Linked DNA regions of Homo sapiens. The protein of the gene in region 1 interacts with the protein of each later gene in a biochemical or structural test. Each region holds a gene or a part of one and is shown in the gene's direction. Other genes may lie near its edges.

Region 1 (4,595 bases):
GAGGAACAAGGTCCATTAGAACATTCTCAGAATCCACAAGATAGAAATGAATCAGTTGTTCAGCATAAACACAGTGTTTCCTGGTGCTGTTGGAACACTTTGTGAAATTAGGGACAATATCTCATCAACATCCCAGACCAACATCCCAAAAGACCATTTAATAGCTTGCATCTGTGCTTCTCCCTACCCCATAGCCCCTCCCTCCAGAGATGACCACTATGCTGACTTGTAAAATATTAATCTTATATCCAGCCACCTTTCTTTTTCGTTTGTTTGTTTGTGTTTTTGCAGACAGAGTCTTATTCTGTCGCCCAGTGCAGTGTTGTGATCTCAACTTACTGCAACCTGTGCCTCCCAGGTTCAAGTGATTCCCCTGCCTCAGCCTCCCAAGTAGCTGGGATTACAGGTGCATGCCACAATGCCTGGCTAATTTTTGTATTTTTGGTAGAGACGGGGTTTCACCATGTTAGCCAGGCTGATCTCGAACTCCTGGCCTCCCACAGTGCTGGGATTACAGGTGTGAGCTGCCATTCCTGGCCTTATCCAGCCACCTTTCTAAACTCACATTTATTTCTAATAATTTGTCTGCAGACTCTTTGAGGTTTTTACATATCATGTCATCTGTCTTTGAGAGTTTTAAACATTGGACTGCTCCATTCACTCAAAAATTTTAAAAAATTCCATGATTGCATTATTCATACTTCATGGAGATAGATGGGGGGCTAAGAAAGCATACCAGACATAGTCACTTTCAATCCCAGGTCCAAATGCTGGATAGGTAGCTTCCTTGAGAATGGGCATGGTAGAAATTTCTGGGGGGACGTGTAGGGATTTGGGAAAAACACCTGGTTTTATGGTCATGGACTTTCAGTACATTTTTTTCCAAATCCCCTACAGATCAATTACTTTTTCTCTTTTTTATACTTATTTAATTTTTTTTAGATGGAGTTTCGCTCTTGTTGCCCAGGCTGGAGTGCAATGGCGCGATCTCAGCTCACTGCAACCTCTGCATCCCGGGCTCAAGCGATTCTCCTGCCTCAGCCTACTAAGTAGCTGGGATTACAGGCATGTACCACACCCGGCTAATTTTGTATTTTTAGTAGAGACAGGGTTTCACCATGTTGGTCAGGCTGGTCTTAAACTCCTGACCTCAGGTGATTCACCCACCTTGGCCTCTCAAAGTGCTGGGATTACAGCCGTGAGCCACTGCGCCTGGCCTCTTTTCTTTCTTTTTTTTTTTTTTGAGACAGGATCTCACTCTGTCACCTAGGCTGGAGTGCACTGGCATGATCATGGCTCACTTCAGCCTCGACCTCCCAGGCTCAGGTGATCCTCCCACCTCAGCCTCCTGAGTAGCTGGGACTACAGACACATGCCATCATGCCCAGCTGATTCTTTTGTATTTTTGTAGAGTCAGGGTTTTGCCATGTTGCCCAGGCTGGTCTCGAACTTCTGGGCTCAAGCGATCCTCCTGCCTCGGCCTCCCAAAATTCTGGGATTACAGGTGTGAGCCACTGCACCTAGCTTCATCCATATTTTTTTTAGCCATGTATAGAACATGAGATGTTTGAAGTTGTTTTCTGACAGGAATTTGGAGAGTGAATATTTTATGGTGCTGATTAAACCCAGATTCATGTGCTTGGAAAAGACAACCACAGGGAAGCTAGTGAGTGCTTTGAGATATGTCAAGGGGTAAAACTAAGACCACAAGTGGGCTGCAGAAGCACCTACAGGCATTGCCAAGAGGATCTCCAAAAAGCAGTTCACCCTGGTCTGCTCTGAAGTTTGGATACAAGTCCTGACCCATGGGCATGGTTCAGGATCTTCTAGCCTGGAAAATTTTCAGGGCAGTTGCCCACAACCAACCAACTGACAAAAACACAGCAATAGCTAGAGAGCACCCAATTTTAAGCAATCCACCCTTCCGTCAGCCTGCTACTGTGAATGAGCCTCAATATGTGATCTGTAGTTAGCTGAATTCTATTGACAGCCTATGGTTACTGGATATAAGCCAATTCTGTTCTGGGGACTTGCCAGAAATGACACAATTGGCCAGTTGACCCACAGCCTAGTTCCTAGCAGAGATTGGATAGCTGATTGAGCATTGTGGCTGTTTTGAGGCTTGACCAGAGATTCCTGCCGTTGGCAGAGGGGAATCTGTAGTCTTTGCTTCTTGGTAGCAGGTGAGGCTGAAAACGCAAGTAGCAGGCTAAAAACTGGTTTCAAGTCCTCACCATCTGGTGAAACCTCAGAGCCCATCAGATAGAAAATGCCAGCTGGGACTGTGCTAATTCGGTAAGGCCTGGGTGGAGAAGGAGGGCCTGGGCACGACCATCTGGTTTCGGAATGGAGGTAGCAGTCATTTATTAAGCACTTAATGTATATCGGGCACTGTACAGGAGACGTTCTGGCTGTTCTCCTGTACATTTCCTGCAAAGACCTAATGAGATATGATTACTCCATCCTACAGGTAAGGAAACTGAGCTCAGAGAGTCTAGCTGCCCAGGGTCACACAGTAAATGATGAGCCAGGACTTGAACACTTGACTGCTTGAATCCTGTACTCCCTCCAGGGGCCAAGATGTGGCAGCTCACAGAATGCCTATATCTTTTTTTTTTTTTGTCTTTTGAGACAGTCTCACTCTGTCGCCCAGGCTGGAGTGCAGTGGTGAGATCTCACCTCACTGCAACCCCCGCCTCCCAGGTTCAAGTGATTCTTGTGCCTCAGCCTCTCAAGTAGCTGGGATTACAGGCCTGCACCACCAAACCTGGCTAATTTTTGTATTTTTAGTAGAGAGGGGGTTTCACCATGTTGGCCAGGCCAGTCTCTAACTGCTGACCTCAGGTGATCCACCCACCTTGGTCTCCCAAAGTGCTGGGATTATAGGCGTGAGCCACCATACCTAGCTCTACATCTTTATCACACTCTGTTCCTTTGCCTTGGTGGGAAAAGTTGCAGCTTAGTACCAACTGCCTCCTGCTTGAGCCACTGTGCACAGTTACTATCAGCCTGGCCCTGTAGGCACGTAGAACCCCTGGACTCAATACTGCATAGGATGGGATAAGACCACATCTGATGTGGTGAAGGTCACCGGGATGATGTTGTTTCTGAGATAACAGGTATGTCTGCCTTCCTTCCCTTTGCATTTAGCTTTCACAATCAACAGTGTTGACATGAAGAGCCTGCCGGACTGGACGGTGCAAAATGGGAAGAACCTGACCCTGCAGTGCTTCGCGGATGTCAGCACCACCTCTCACGTCAAGCCTCAGCACCAGATGCTGTTCTATAAGGATGACGTGCTGTTTTACAACATCTCCTCCATGAAGAGCACAGAGAGTTATTTTATTCCTGAAGTCCGGATCTATGACTCAGGGACATATAAATGTACTGTGATTGTGAACAACAAAGAGAAAACCACTGCAGAGTACCAGGTGTTGGTGGAAGGTGAGTCCTTGGAACTGAGCACAGGCAAGCAGATGGAGCATAGCACACAGTGGCGTGAATAACAGCTGTGAATGAATAGTGACACTGGACTTAACTCTCCACCCATCACCCTCTCATTCATCTGCCTGGCATTTTCCTTACCTGAATACGTAAGCACTAGACATATTCCCAATAGGCCAGGCCCTTCCTTCCTTCCTTCCTTCCTTTCTTTCTTTGATGGAGTCTCACTCTGTCACCCAGTCTGGAGTGCAGTGGTGTGATCTCGGCTCACTGCAACCTCTGCCTCCCAGGTTCAAGCGATTCTCCTGCCTCAGCCTCCCAAGTAATTGGGATTACAGGTGTGTGCCACCACACCTGGCTAATTTTGTATTTTTAGTAGAGATGGGGTTTCACTGTGTTGGTCAGGCTGGTCTCGAACTCCTGACCTCAAGTGATCCACCTGCCTTGGCCTCCCAAAATGCTTCTTCATCTCGTCTCATAAATTAAAATTTCTTCTTCAAGACTCAACTCAATGATGTCTTCTCTTTCCAAAACAAAATGGGTCTACCCCAGGGTGCCAGTCAGTACAGCTCTGATGCTCTCTCTACATTCAATGGTATTTGTGTGTATAAAGGCCACAGCGGTGTGTTAAGACACCTCGTTCTGCAGTCACTCTGCCTGGGTTTCAATCTGGGCAAGTCCCTTAACAGCTCTAAACTTCAAAATCCTCACCAGTAAAAGGAAGATAACAACGATACCCATTTCAGGCAATTATTGAGAGGGTTAAAAGTGTCATGTGGGTAGAGTGCTTAGCAAAATTTCCAGCACCTAGTGAGTTCCTAATAAATAGAAATGTATTTATTTATTTTGAGACAGAGTCTTCCTCTGTCACCCAGGCTAAAGAGCAATGGCGCGACCTTGGCTCACTGCAACCTCTGTCTCCTGGGTTCAAGCGATTCTCCTGTCTCAGCCTCCCAAGCAACTGGGATTACAGGCACGCGCCACTGTGCCTGGCTAATTTTTTGTATTTTTAGTAAGGATGGGGTTTTACCATGTTGGCCAGCCTGGTCTCGAACTCCTAACTTCAAGTGATTTACCCACCTTGGCCTCCCAGAGTGTCAGGATTACAGGTGTGAGCCACCATGCCCGGTCCACAAATATTCTATTTCACT
Region 2 (4,595 bases), on another chromosome or scaffold:
TTTTCTTTTCTGAGACAGGGTCTTGTTCAGTTGCCCCGGCTGAAGTGCAGTGGCAAGATCATGGCTCACTGCAACCTCAACTTTCTGGCCTCAAGTAATCCTCCCACCTCAACCTCCTAAGTTGGGAGGGACTACAGGCATGCACCACCATGCCTGGCTAATTTTTTTATTTTTTGTAGAGGCAGGGTTCCCCTATGTTGCCCAGGCTGGTCTCAAACTCCTGGGATCAAACAATCCTTCTGCCTCAGCCTCCCAAAGTCCTGGGATTACAGGCATGAGCCACTGTGCCAGGCCCAAATGTTTTATTAAAAATGCAATGATGCTATTCATATCATTTGTCAACTAGCTTTTCATGCTTAAAAATATATATTGTGGCCACCTGTCCTTGTTGGCAAGATAGTTCTGGATCACACTTGTTAAACACTGTGATATTCTAGTTTATGGATGGTCTAGAATACTTTTTTTTTTTGAGACAGACTCTAGCTCTGTTACCCAGGCTGGAGTGCAATGATGCGATCCTGGCTCACTGCAACCTCCACCTCCTGGGTTCAAGCAATTCTTCTGCCTCAGCCTCCCGAGTAGCTGGCATTACAGGCAAGCACCACCACGCTTGGCTAATTTTGTATTTTTAGTAGAGACAGGAGTTTCACCATGTTGGTCAGGCTGGTCTCGAACTCCTGACCTCAGGTGATCCACCCACCTCGGCCTCCCAAAGTGCTGGGATTACAGGCATGAGCCACCACACCTGGCCCTCTGATACATTATTAATGAATCTCCTAAGGCTGGACAGTAAGGTTGCTTCTGATTTTTTTCTGTGCTGAGGCCTGTGCTGCAGAGCCGTGACAGGGTTGGACTTCTGCGCAGCTCCTGATCACTTTGTTAAAGTCGCACCTTTGCAGGGGAGTGTCTAGGCCAGAAGCCACTCGCTTATGACTTTGGACACATGTTTCCAGGTTGCTGTCCTGGAAGTTCACACTGATTTACGCTCCTCTCAGTTTTCTTGAAGCTGACCAAGTCCTTTGCAAAGTGTAATGTGCAGGGAGGCAGAGGCCTTTCTAAGTCTGTCTGCCCTTCCATCCCTAGAAGAGAGAAGGCTTCTGCCAGCTCCTGCAGCAGATGAAGAACAAGCACTCAGAGCAGCCGGAGCCCGACATGATCACCATCTTCATCGGCACCTGGAACATGGGTGGGTCCGCGCGCCCCCTCCCTGCAGTCACCCCCTCTGCTTCTGCTTTCCTGACTCAGGCATCCTCAAGGTGGGGTGGAGTGACGACATCCATGTCCCCTTCCTTCCTGCCCCAGGGCCCTGCCCCTAAGCCCCAGCCCACCCGCACAACCTCCTTCCTGAGGAATTCCACCCTTTTCCTGAGATGATGGGTAAGAAAAACGAGCTTTGGGACTATCGTACCCCAAGAGCAGCTGGCGTGGGTTACTCTGTATGTCTAAATTGGAAAGTTTTAGGGAAAGAGTCTGAATATCTAGGTGAAGGGGCTCATGGGAACCCTGCCAGCCCTAGGCAGCTCACCAAGGGGCCCCAGGCCTGAGAGAAAGAAGTCCACCCTGAGTAGGGTTGCCAGATTTATCAGGAGAGAGACAGAGAGAGACAGAGAGATAGGTACGTAGACAAAGGATGCCCAGTTAAATTTTAACTTCATAGAAACAATTTTTTTTAGTATATGTTTAGCTACAAACAAATAAATACTAAATATATATGCTCATAGACATTATGCTGAATATATAGTATATATACATATGCTAAATAAGTGTAATTATTATATTAAATATGAATTATACTAAGTAATATTAGTTTAAGCATACAGCTAATAATATACTAAATATATGCTAAATATATTTTGTATTAAACATATATATTGTGTATTTACTAAACACATGCACTCTACTAAATATAAATAATACTAAATAATTTTTTAGTGTAAGTGTTCAGGTAGAAATAAATTAGATAGAAGACATCCAGATAAACTTATTCTAAAAACTACCAGTTTATCTGAAATTGGAATTTCACTGGGTGTCGTGTGTCCCCTACCCTTGTCCTGAGAGGAGTCTGGGAGGAAGAGGGTGAGCAGTGGCTGGCAGGGGCCTCCTGGAAGTGAAGTGACAGCTTGTCACTCGTGTCCCAGGGCCACAGCAGCCGTGGAGTAGAGCCCGGGCCAGTGCCCCAGGGGGTCACTTGTCCCCTTCGGTCCCTTTCAGTGTTTCTAATAAGAGACAATAGTCTGCCTGATCTCCTCCCTCTGGACATGGTCAGGGATGTCCATGACACAAGGGCAGGGGTGCCCTTCCCACAGAAGAGTATGGAAGGAGCCAGCTGAGGCCATGCCGCAGGAGGGCCGGGGACCCACCAGCCCGGGGGTTCGGGCACCCACTTTGAGCCTCTTGGGGGAGCAGAATTTAGCCACAGTCCATTTACTCCAATGCTTGGCTTCTTTGCACTTGTAAGGCAAGAAGCTCATCTCTTTGAGGAACAAAGTTTGCTCATCCTTCAAGGGCATTGTAGGGAGAACCGTTCAAAATTTCTTGATTGAGCTTCTTCAACTCAGTTTTGAAATGGGAATGCGGAGGAGTTTCCACACTCTCCCGTTTCTCTGGCTCACACCCAGGCATCCCTCCGCTCTGGGCTGGGATCTGTCTTGCAAGGGAGACTTTGTTGTCTCCCAACAATGGGTTAGAACCCGCCATCTAAAACTTGTCAGTTCCCTTGGCTGTCTTGAGAATAGGATGTGAGTTCCTTGAGGGACAGGACTGTGTCTCAATTATCGTAGCCTCAAAGTGCAGGACAGTGTCTGACATCAGGGAATCTTCTGGTGTTTCTATACCTTGAAACTTGACATTACGTTTAAAAAGAGGCTTAACTGAGCTCTAGCCCTAACCGACATCCTGGGTGAGGTTGGCGCCCAGGCCTCCATTGCAGGCATTTCTTTGGGCTGCCTGGATGGTCTTGTGTAATGACGTGACCTCCCTCACACTCCCGCCCTCTGTTTTGAATTCTCCTAATGCTTTGACTCGATGTGCCTTTGACTCACTTGGTGTTGGGTTTTGCTGTTGAAGGTAACGCCCCCCCTCCCAAGAAGATCACGTCCTGGTTTCTCTCCAAGGGGCAGGGAAAGACGCGGGACGACTCTGCGGACTACATCCCCCATGACATTTACGTGATCGGCACCCAAGAGGACCCCCTGAGTGAGAAGGAGTGGCTGGAGATCCTCAAACACTCCCTGCAAGAAATCACCAGTGTGACTTTTAAAACAGTGAGCAGCTGGCTGCACGCTGGGTGGGCTTCCGGGATAGAATCTTTGCTCGGCTGGGCTGTCTCAGAGGCAAGGGTGGGCTCAGCCTATCAGCTCTCAGTTTTCAAGGATGTCTGGAGGCCCCCACTGAGAGATGCGTCTGTATTCAGAAATAAATGGGATCTGTGGGGTATTGCTGAAAACCACTGAGTCCTCTATCTTCCCACCCTTGGTCAGCCCCGGTTCTCATCTTTAGGATGTTTTGTCTCGCCTATCAAGCATCGCTGGGAGTCCCCCGAAGGGTTGGGATTACAGACAGGATACCCCATACCCAGGGGCTGCGGCTGGGGCTGGGTGTGAATCACTGTGCCCTGGTTCACACCCTACACTTGGGCCGAGTATTGCAACGTTGTCCTCCCACCAGGTCGCCATCCACACGCTCTGGAACATCCGCATCGTGGTGCTGGCCAAGCCTGAGCACGAGAACCGGATCAGCCACATCTGTACTGACAACGTGAAGACAGGCATTGCAAACACACTGGGTGAGCAGGGCGGGGACCCTGTGTTCCTCCCACACCCTCTGCCTCAACTCTCGCGACCACATCATCCTGATCCCACCAGTAGTTCCCCGGGTTAAAAACAGAGAGCCTCACATCCTCAGATCCTGGCTCAGTCCTCAGCAAATAGGGGTGATTGGTCTCCCTGGCTGAAACTCACTCAGGGTCTACACCAGCAGTCCCAGGGATCTAGCTAAAATGCAGGTTCCGACCCAGTAGATCTTGGGTGGAGCTCAGGGTTCCAAGTTTCTGACAGGTTCCCAGGCGACTTGAGCGCTGCTGGTCGGCCCGTGGGACCCATTTTAAGAAGCAAGAACCTAGAAGAGGCATTGGCCAACTTTTGCAGGAAAGGGAAGGGCCTGACAGTAAATATTTCAGGCTTTGCAGGCCACTCAACACTATTCCTCTCTGCCTTTCTGGTGGGAAAGCAGCCATAGGCAACCCAGAAAGCGAATGGGAGTGACTGTGTTACCAGTGAGACCTTCCTTACAAGCACAGGCGGGAGGTGGCTGGCCCCTGCCCTCGGTCCCTGTGCACCAGGTTGGATCTGGAAACGCTGGTGTCAGTGGAGAGTTGCTGGCTTCAGAGAGCAGTAACAAGGGCAAGAAGTCTTCATAAGTGTAGGAGTGCAAGCCTGTGTGTTTGTGTAGGATGTGTGTGTGAGTAGGTCTGTGTATGTGAGTTTGTGTGAGTGACAGCGTGCATGTGAGTGTGTGAGCCTGTGTAGGTGTGTGAGAGTTTATGGATGTGTGTTTGTGAGCATGTTTATGTGAGTCAATGTGTGAGCGTACCACCC
Region 3 (5,232 bases), on another chromosome or scaffold:
GAAACTATAATCAGGGTGAACAGACAACCTACAGCATGGGAGAACATTTTCAAAATCTATCCATCTGACAAAGGTCTAATATCCAGAATCTACAAGGAACTTAAACTAATTTATAAGAAATAAACAACCCCATTAAAAAGTGGGCAAAGGACATGAACAGATATTTCTCAAAAGAAGACATTTATATAGCCAACAAACATATGAAAAAAAGCTCAACATCATTGATCATTAGAAAAATGCAAACCAAAACCACAATGAAATATCATCTCATGCCAGTCAGAATGGTGATCATTAAAAAGTCAATAAACAACAGATGCTGGTGAGGTTGTGGAGAAATAGGAACACTTACACTGTTGATGGGAGTGTAAATTAGTTCAACCATTGTGGAAGACAGTATGGGGATTCCTCAAAGATCTAGAACCAGAAATACCATTTGACCCAGCAATCTCATTACTGGGTATATACCCAAAGGAATATAAATCATTCTGTTATAAAGATACATGCATGCATATGTTCATTGTAGCACTATTCACAATAGCAATGACATGGAATCAACCCAAATGCCCATCAATGACAGACTGGATAAAGACAATGTGGTACATATACACCAGGGAATACTGTGCAGCCACAAAAAGGAACGAGATCATGTCCTTTGCAGGGACATGGATGGAGCTGGAAGCCATTATCCTCAGCAAACTAACACAGGAACAGAAAACCAAGCACTGCATGTTCTCACTTATAAGTGGGAGCTGAACAATGAACACAGGGAGGGGAACAACACACACTGGGGCCTGTTGGGGAGAGTGGAGGGAGGGAGAGCATCAGAAAGAATAGCTAAAACATGAGGGGCTTAATACCTAAGCAATGGATTGATAGGTGCAGCAAACCACCATGGCACACATTTACCTATGTAACAACTCTGCACGTCCTGTACATGTATCCCAGAACTTAAAACAAAATAAAAAAGATAAAAAATAAATAAAACACACAGTCCAAAAAGTCATCCTGTCTTACAGAGCTATGGGTGATCTGGTCTCCTGCTACTTTCCGAACTTCTGTTCTGTTTCCCTCAACCCTCTAGCCTAACTACAATTGGCCTCCTTGCTGCTCTGGAACAGGCCAAGAGCTTTTCTGCCTCAGAGTCTTTGCACCTGCCATTTCCTCTGCTTGGGAAATGTTTGCCCCAAGGGAGTTGGGTGACTTGATCGCTCACATTACTTAGGTCTCTGCTTGAATGTCACAGATGTTCTCTTAATAAAGAAGAGGCAAGAAAAGCCACTTTATTATTTATTAAACTCCCGCATAGAGTGCAGTATTATTACTGTGTGCCAGACCCTGCTTCAAACACATTCCATGGACTATAAAATTGCATCTCTGAGCAGCTCCTAGAGCTGGTAGTAACAACTTACATTTACTGGGTGATTACCATGTGCCAGGTATTGTGCTAAACACGTTGTAGATATTAACTCACTTAATCCTCGTAACAATCCCATGAAGTAGGTACTGCTACTATCCCGGCTTTACATCTGAAGTACAGAGAGGTTAAGTAACTTGCCCCATGTCATCCAGCAAGAACTAAATTTGAACCCAGAGCTTAGCCACTGATGCCTCTTGAGAGAAGGAGTCAGACTTAAGTTGAGTCTTTAAAGGTGGTTGACCAGGCATTTGTCAGAGTTAAGAAAGAGAGGTAGGACATCCTTTTCCAGGCAGAGGGCATTGTGTGCACACACGTATAGAAGCAGGCAGCCCACCCTCATGCTTTCCAGGAAGCAAATGTGGCTCAGGTGTAAAGTGCCCGGTTGATGAAGGGAGTTAGCGGAGGGAGTATAAGGATGTACTGTCTGCCCCCTTAGGACACCTGCAGAGGATTAAGGTGGCTGTTTCTCCCTGGAGGTGGAGTGGGTGGGTCACTGCACAGGAGCCTATAGTTGTTGGTCTTTTAAACTCTTATTGGTGTAACCAGCCACGGAACTCTGAGGCAAGGGGTTGGGGGTGGGAAGGGAAACAGAGAAAAGGCAAGTGAAACAGAAGGGGAGGTGCAGTTTCAGAACCCAGCCAGCCTCTCTCTTGCTGCCTAGCCTCCTGCCGGCCTCATCTTCGCCCAGCCAACCCCGCCTGGAGCCCTATGGCCAACTGCGAGTTCAGCCCGGTGTCCGGGGACAAACCCTGCTGCCGGCTCTCTAGGAGAGCCCAACTCTGTCTTGGCGTCAGTATCCTGGTCCTGATCCTCGTCGTGGTGCTCGCGGTGGTCGTCCCGAGGTGGCGCCAGCAGTGGAGCGGTCCGGGCACCACCAAGCGCTTTCCCGAGACCGTCCTGGCGCGATGCGTCAAGTACACTGAAATTCATCCTGAGATGAGGTGGGTTGGCGACTAAGGCGCACCGGTGGGCACTGCGGGGACAGCAGGGCCCCGCGCGCAGGGAAGCCGCCCGGATCGCCCGGAACCGGGCATCTTCCGTGGCGGGTCAGCCGAGAGCCCGCCGGGTGGTGCTGAGTAGGGAGTCCCGGGCTCGGGGCTCCGCGGGCCGCTTTCAGGAGCAGCTGGCCTTGGCACCGAGCGTGCCCGCGGGAGGCGGGGGGGGGCGCTGCTCGGTGGCTCTGCTGCGTAGCCGGTGAACACTTGGCACCGATGCCCGCCTTCTGGGCAAGGTGCCCTGAGCCCAGCCCCTCGCCGGGCTGCAGCCCACCCTCGGCGCGCTCAGCCCGCTTCACCGCTTCAGGGACGGAATAGAACTCGCAGATGCAGGGTGTCGCTGACATTTTCAACTTTTTCTGCGGTTTCCGCCCGCTGTCTCTGACCCGAAAGTGCCCCCGGACGGTTACAGAGGACACTTAAGTGGTTTGCAAAGCCTGTGGTAGGGGAGGAGGGTGTAGAAGGGCCAAACCACGGAACTTAGTTTTATTCATTTATATAAAGCAGCACTCCGATTCTTTTTGCGCGGCCTGAAATGCATGTGACCAGAGAAGTAATTAACAAAACAATGTCAACTTCTAAAACCGAGACATTACTTAGATGATAAGGCGCAGCAACTCGGTGAATCTGTACAAACCTTGGAAAAAAAACACATTAGTCTATGGGACCTTCCAGTTTTCTCATGCTCCTTTCCAGCTACTAACCTCTCCTAAAGGGAACAACCACTTTTTGGATTTGATTCCCAGGCCTCGCTTTCACCGGGAAATTATCGTTGCTTGTAAAACAGAAGAAGCCGGGAAGGCAGGCAGGGGGAGCTGCTACTTTACACTCTGTGCTTTGGGATAGCAAAATCCCGCATTTAAGCAATCCGAGGAAACGAGCAAATAGACCTCCCTCGCCTCTCCGAGCACACTCAACAGTTCCGGTTGCAAAATGTTTGCCTCCTGGGCTTCCCAGCGTCCCGTTAGTTGTTCTATTTACACATAATTAGATACTTAATGGAGAGAGAAACTAGAAGTTGAGGCGTTCCTCCAGGCTGTATTGTAAAGTATGAAGTGAAATCCAAAATGAAATGGTAATGTTAGAAAGCAACCTCATTAAAAAAAAAAAAAGTAACACTGGTCTTGAAGATCTTTCAATGTGAGTACATAAAGATCTATCTCATTTCTTTTGACAGCCCATAGTATTTCATAAACTAGATGTAACCATTTCCTATTGACAGGAAATTAGCTTGTTTCCAATTTTTCAATCCCATTCATTCATCCAACAAGTATCTGTTGAGCACCCACTATGTTCCAGACAGTGATCTAGCTACTGATGACACAAGAGTGAATGACGAAGTTCTCACTCATGAAATTTTCACCTTAGTTGGGAGAAACATGATGCAATGAAAATCTTCATACATACATTGTGTGTACATATGGGAGTATTTCTGTAGGATAGATTTCTAGTGATGAAACTGCTGAGTAAAAGGGAGAATTATGCATATTTTAAGTTTTGATTTTTCCAAATTCCAGGTATTCCATATATACTCCAAAATAGTTGTGCCATTTTACTCTCCCATCATCAGTCTATCAGAGGGGATGCTTTCCCACAATCTCTTGAATGCTGAATATTTTCAACTTTTTTACTTAAGAGAAAAAAGAGCATCTAATTGTTCCCTCAGTATCAGTGAGTCTAAGCATCTTGTATATGTTTATTTGCCATTTATATTTTTTTCTGTGATTTTCCTGTCCAGATACTTGATACTTTCTATTGAGCTGCTTATTTATTTCTTATGGGAGATTTTTATATATTTTAGATAATATTCTCTCTCTCACACACACACACACACACACACACACACACACACACACACACACACACATACAGTCTTACAGCCACATCCCTGAAATCTTGACCTTGTGAACATGTTTTACTGGCAGCACTCTGGACTCGATCATTGCCTTGAGACTATTTCTTTTTTGATATTCTTTGGAAAGACTAACAATGACAGTTTTATTTTCAAACCCAACAAATCCTGGCATGGAAATGTTTGCTCTTGATTCTGCTTTTAAAAAAATAAAGAATTATTTTCTCTCTTTCTTTCTGCACCTTATCAGAAACAGCTAAAAGAAGTGAGTTGGGCCAGGCACTGTGGCTCACACCTGTAATCCCAGCACTTTGGGAGGCCCAGGCAGGTGGATCACTTAAGGTCAGGAGTACAAGACCTGCCTGGCCAACATGCTGAAACTCCGTCTCTACTAAAAATACAAAATTAGCCGGGTGTTGTGGCGCGTGCCTGTAATCCCAGCTACTCTGGAGACTGAGGTGGGAGAATCGCTTGAACCCAGGAGGAGGAGGTAGCACTGAACCAAGATCCAGCCTGGCCAAGAGAGTAAGACTCCGTCTCAAAACCAAACCAAACCAAACCAAAAAAAGAAGTGAGTTGGCACTTTCAACATTCTGCCTGGAAATCTCCTTACCAAACCTATAAGATCATTAGGTATATTTTCTGCACTTTGTATTGTGACAGGTGACAGTGTTACCAAACTTTTTACCAGGACATAATAGGGTCTGCCTTTCTTCTAGTTGCTAACAATTTCCCCCAAGTCCATCTTGCCTGCACTAACAGTCTCCTTTAGACCTCTCCTCTCCTGCCTGTCACACATTCCTAGTACTAATGCTACAGTATAGTAGTAAGGGTCTCCAGAGAAACAACATTTATATAACATAATATAAATACATTAATAGAGAGAAAGAGATTTTAAGAAATTGGCTTATATCATTGTGAAGTCGGGCAAGCCCCAAATCTGCTGGACAGGCCAGCAGCCTGGAGAC
Region 4 (4,595 bases), on another chromosome or scaffold:
AGCTACTTGGGAGGCTGAGGTGGGAGGATCACTTGAGCCCAGGAGGTTGAGGCTGCACTGAGCTGTGATTGCACCACTGCACTCCAACCTGGGTAACAGAGCGAGACCTTGTCTCAAAACAAAAAACCCACAAAACTATGGCTACCATATAGTAACTGATCAATAAGTTTGTTGCTGTTATCTGGCTCTGATTCTTTGGGAGTGTAAGATCTATCCTTTTTTCAGGAAGAGAAACAAGCTGTTCATTGGCTAATGGGAAATGGCAAATAGATTATGTCATGTGTATCTTTTTTTTTTTTGAGTCTCACTCTGTCCTCCAGGCTGGAGTGCAGTGGCATGATCTCGGCTCACTTCAGCCTCCCCCTCCTGGGTTCAAATGATTCTCATGCCTCAGTCTCCCAAGTAGCTGGGACTACAAGCATGTGCCACCATGCCTGGCTAATTTTTGTATTTTTAGTAGAGACAGGTTTTCGCCTTGTTGGCTAGGCTGGTCTCGATCTCCTGTCCTCAGGTGATCCTCCCGCCTTGGCCTCCCAAAGTGCTGGGATTACAGATGTGAGCCACCATGCCCAGCCTATCATGTGTATCGACTTTGATTGGTAGTTGCTTGTAGTGCTGGAGAAGGATTCTGAGGTTCATTGGAAGTGAGTGCCAGGAATGATTAGTAACATCTGCCATGGATACAATGGAAGAATGGCAGTATATCTATGTCTATGTATTTGCTGTGTGTAGGTGAGGTCTTTGTCTTTGGTAACTAGTTCAGCACTCAAAGTGGGGACACTCAGGTTGCTGTCATCCTTTTACAGGGTTTTAATCTCTTGGGAAGGGCCATTGGTCACTCACTGCATCCTAGCAACTCCCATCCATGTCCAGCTGCCCTCCACTATTAGAGAGGTGGTCCCTCAGACCCCCAGACCCCCTCTTTCTTATTCCATCCAATATATTCAGCACATAGTTATTGTTTCTTACTCTCGGCTGGGCACCAGGAACATGGATGGATGAAACAAGGTTCCTGTTGTCAGGGAAACCTGATTTTAGTTACAGCTACTGGGGAAACCAGAGTTTGTGCCATGGGAAAGTTCCAGCATGCCCATGGGAGTGTAGATGATGATCCAGTTTATTATGCCTGGTAGGATCTAGAGAGGCTTCCTAGTGGGGCAGTCTAGCAGGGCCACGAAAGAAAAGTAGAATTTTTTTTAGCAGGCAGAGATGAAACAAAGAGGCTTTGGGGTGAGAGCCTAGTGGTCTGAGTGCAGGATCTCAAAATTGCTAAACTGTTTGAAGTCAAAGGCAGAGTGGGGGAAAGAGAAGAAGCTACCAGTGTGGACCATGCCAAGCTTAGGATACTAGTTGAGGATTCTAGGTTCTACCTTATTGGTGATGAAAAACCTACAGATCCCTCCCAGCATGCTCTACCCTAGCCCCTCTGCAAAAAAACCTTTACATATCCTGGGCATCCTTACCCTGAACACACACTCCTCCATTCTCACTCTTCAATCTTCCTTTTCACATGTCAGACACACTTCTAGACTCCCAGTTGGAGGAGAAAGGTCTGGGGGCCTCCCCCTGGGGCAACTTGGGCCAGCAACTCTTGCTTCTGCCCACAGGGAGTCTAGTGGATTTTCTCAAGACCCCTTCAGGCATCAAGTTGACCATCAACAAACTCCTGGACATGGCAGCCCAAGTAAGGAGACTGGGGAGGGGGGCTGGGCAAGGGAACAGACCAGTGACGTGAAGACATCTGGCTCAGGACCGCTGATCTGTGTTTGGCCTGCAGATTGCAGAAGGCATGGCATTCATTGAAGAGCGGAATTATATTCATCGTGACCTTCGGGCTGCCAACATTCTGGTGTCTGACACCCTGAGCTGCAAGATTGCAGACTTTGGCCTAGCACGCCTCATTGAGGACAACGAGTACACAGCCAGGGAGGGTACGTGTGAGATTTAAGGGTGGTCTGGGCCCTGCAGGGTCTGGCCAAGCAGACCCAGGTGACCTCACTCTGCCTCCTCCTTAGGGGCCAAGTTTCCCATTAAGTGGACAGCGCCAGAAGCCATTAACTACGGGACATTCACCATCAAGTCAGATGTGTGGTCTTTTGGGATCCTGCTGACGGAAATTGTCACCCACGGCCGCATCCCTTACCCAGGTTAGAGCCAAGGGCAGGAACTGAAAGGGTGATGGGAAGGGCAAGTCCATGTCTTCCCATTCAATTCTTTCCAGTCTCAGAATCTGAAACTTTGTAGCTGCATCTCCTCTATCTTCTCAGGGGTATGAGTCCAACGTCCCCAGGCAGATGCCACATCTCCCAGGGCTGGCTTCCATCTCCGTATCTCTCTTTAATAACCCCAGCTCTTTTCTTTTTCTCTTTTTTTCTTTTTCTTTTTTTTTTTTTTTTTTTTTTTTTTTTTTGAGACGGAGTCTTGCTCTGTCTCCCAGGCTGGGGTGCAGTGGCGCCATCTTGGATCACTGCAACCTCTGCCTCCTGGGTTCAAGTGATTCTCCTGCCTCAGCCTCCCAAATAGCTAGGATTACAGGTACGTGCCACCATGCGCAGCTAATTTTTTGTATTTTTAGTAGAGACAGGGTTTCACCATGTTAGCCAGGATGGCCTCAATCTCCTGACCTCGTGATTGGCCTGCCTCGGCCTCCCAGTGTTGGGATTACAGGCGTGAGCCACCACACCCGGCCCCAGCTCTTTTCTTTAGTTCTGGCCCAGGCAGCCTGGTATGGTAGAAGAAGATCTAGCTCAGGAACAAGAGGCCTACCTTTTATCAGCAGATCTGCCACTGTTGCTAACTTTCTGTTTGGCTTTGTTCAGATCATTACTGTAACTAGTGAAGCTAGTCACTTCACTTCTCTAAGCCTCAGTTTCCTGATACTAAAAATAAGAGACTAGGCCAGGTACAGTGGCTTATGCCTATAATCTCAGAACTTTGGGAGACCAAGGTGGGAGGACTGCTTGAGCCCAGGAGTTCGAGACCAGCCTGGGAAACTGGTCGAAACCCCATCTCTACAAAAACAAAAGTTAGCCAGGTTTGGTGGCATGTGCCTCTAGTCCCAGCTACTCAGAAGGCTGAGGTGGGAGGATCACCTGAGCCAGGGAGGCAGAGGTTGCAGTGAGCCAAGACCATGCCATAACACTCCAGCCTAGGGCAATAGACCAAGACCCTGTCTCAAAACAAGAAAAAGAGAGACTCCATCTCTACAAAAAAAAAAAAACAAACAAACAAAAAAAACATTTAAAAATTAGCTGGGCATGGTGGCACACACCCGTAGTTTCAGCTATTTGGGAGGCTGAGGTGGGAGGATCATTTGAGCCCAGGAGGTTGAGGGTGCAGTGAGCCATGATTGTTCTATTGCACTCCAGCCTGAGCAACAGAGAGAGAATTTGTCTCAAAAAAAAAAAAAAAGAAAAAGAAAAAGAAAAAAGAAAAAATGAGAGACCATTTGTGAAAGAGCCTGACTCATAGTAGGTTGTCAGTATACACTGACTCCTCCCACCATCTCCTGGACAAAGCCCTTTACCCCTGAATTCAGCCAAGACAGGGATGGAATTTTTGAAAGGAACTTGCTAAGAAACTCTGGGGAAAGGAAATGGAGCATAAAGACAGGAGTAGGGGGGTCATGCGGCACAGTGGCTAGATTTGTAGAAGCTTCCCATATCCCCAGAGCAAGGTGAACAGACCTTTGCTCCAAGGAAGGTAAAGACACCTTGGAAGGCCGGATGCAGTGGCTCACACCTGTAATACCAGCACTTTGGGAGGCCGAGGCGGGTGGATCACAAGGTCAGGTGTTCGAGACCAGCCTGACCAACATGGTGAAACCCCGTCTCTACTAAAAAAAATATATATAAAAATTATCTGGGCATGGTGGCACGCGCCTGTAACCCTAGATACTCAGGAGGCTGAGGCAGGAGAATTGCTTGAACCCAGGAGGCAGAGGTTGCAGTGAGCTGAGATCATGCCACCGCACTCCAGCCTGGGTGACAAAGTGAGACTCTGTTTCAAAACAAAAACAAAAACAACCACCTTGGAAACAGGTGAAAAGCTGAGGGGCTTCCCTGCCCTGGGCTTGCCCCAAACCAGCGTCCAGGGGTAGTGCTGGAGCTGGAAATACAGAAATATTCTCCAGTTATCCTGCCAGGGGTCCTCACTGCTCCTTCCCGGTTCCCACAGAGGCAAACCCATAGGGAATGTATCTATTAGAAGAAAATAGGCAGTGAAAGCATGATGATAAATGGCAACTGACATATAGCATTAGGGTCAGGGAGACAATGGGGAGAAATGGGGACCTTGGTAAACTTGCAGCTGCTCCAGCAGATGGCTGCAATTAAGGCGTGGGGGACCCAAAAAAACAGATCTTTTGTTTTTTTAAGAGAAGCCCAAACTTGGAGTTTTAGGAAAATCTGTTCATTTCCATTTATTGGCGATTGATTCAAATTGTTTAAAAGCACTCTAGGGGCTGGGCACGGTGACTCACACCTGTAATCCCAGCACTTTGGGAAGCTGAGGTGGGTGGATCACAAGGTGAGGAGTTTGAGACCAGCCTGGCCAACATGGTGAAACCCTGCCTCTACTAAAAATACAAAAATATT

Evidence for each region. Proteins that work in one complex are often made in the same cells at the same time.
Region 2: the proteins of PECAM1 (region 1) and INPP5D form a complex in vitro, tested with the Homo sapiens proteins (one study listed by BioGRID).
Region 3: the proteins of PECAM1 (region 1) and CD38 form a complex in vitro, tested with the Homo sapiens proteins (one large-scale study listed by IntAct).
Region 4: of the proteins of PECAM1 (region 1) and LCK, one has a biochemical effect on the other in vitro, tested with the Homo sapiens proteins (one study listed by BioGRID).

The regions. Positions count from the first base shown.
Region 1 is NC_000017.11:64,376,673-64,381,267, reverse strand, and holds part of PECAM1 (platelet endothelial cell adhesion molecule precursor), read left to right. Parts: intron 1-3,150; coding exon 3,151-3,444; intron 3,445-4,595. UniProt on the Homo sapiens protein: Cell adhesion molecule which is required for leukocyte transendothelial migration (TEM) under most inflammatory conditions.
Region 2 is NC_000002.12:233,160,641-233,165,235, forward strand, and holds part of INPP5D (phosphatidylinositol 3,4,5-trisphosphate 5-phosphatase 1), read left to right. Parts: intron 1-1,083; coding exon 1,084-1,186; intron 1,187-3,066; coding exon 3,067-3,263; intron 3,264-3,666; coding exon 3,667-3,784; intron 3,785-4,595. UniProt on the Homo sapiens protein: Phosphatidylinositol (PtdIns) phosphatase that specifically hydrolyzes the 5-phosphate of phosphatidylinositol-3,4,5-trisphosphate (PtdIns(3,4,5)P3) to produce PtdIns(3,4)P2, thereby negatively regulating the PI3K (phosphoinositide 3-kinase) pathways.
Region 3 is NC_000004.12:15,776,290-15,781,521, forward strand, and holds the start of CD38 (ADP-ribosyl cyclase/cyclic ADP-ribose hydrolase 1), read left to right. Parts: upstream 1-2,038; 5' UTR 2,039-2,125; coding exon 2,126-2,358; intron 2,359-5,232. UniProt on the Homo sapiens protein: Synthesizes cyclic ADP-ribose (cADPR), a second messenger for glucose-induced insulin secretion.
Region 4 is NC_000001.11:32,278,064-32,282,658, forward strand, and holds part of LCK (tyrosine-protein kinase Lck), read left to right. Parts: intron 1-1,607; coding exon 1,608-1,684; intron 1,685-1,777; coding exon 1,778-1,931; intron 1,932-2,015; coding exon 2,016-2,147; intron 2,148-4,595. UniProt on the Homo sapiens protein: Non-receptor tyrosine-protein kinase that plays an essential role in the selection and maturation of developing T-cells in the thymus and in the function of mature T-cells. Plays a key role in T-cell antigen receptor (TCR)-linked signal transduction pathways.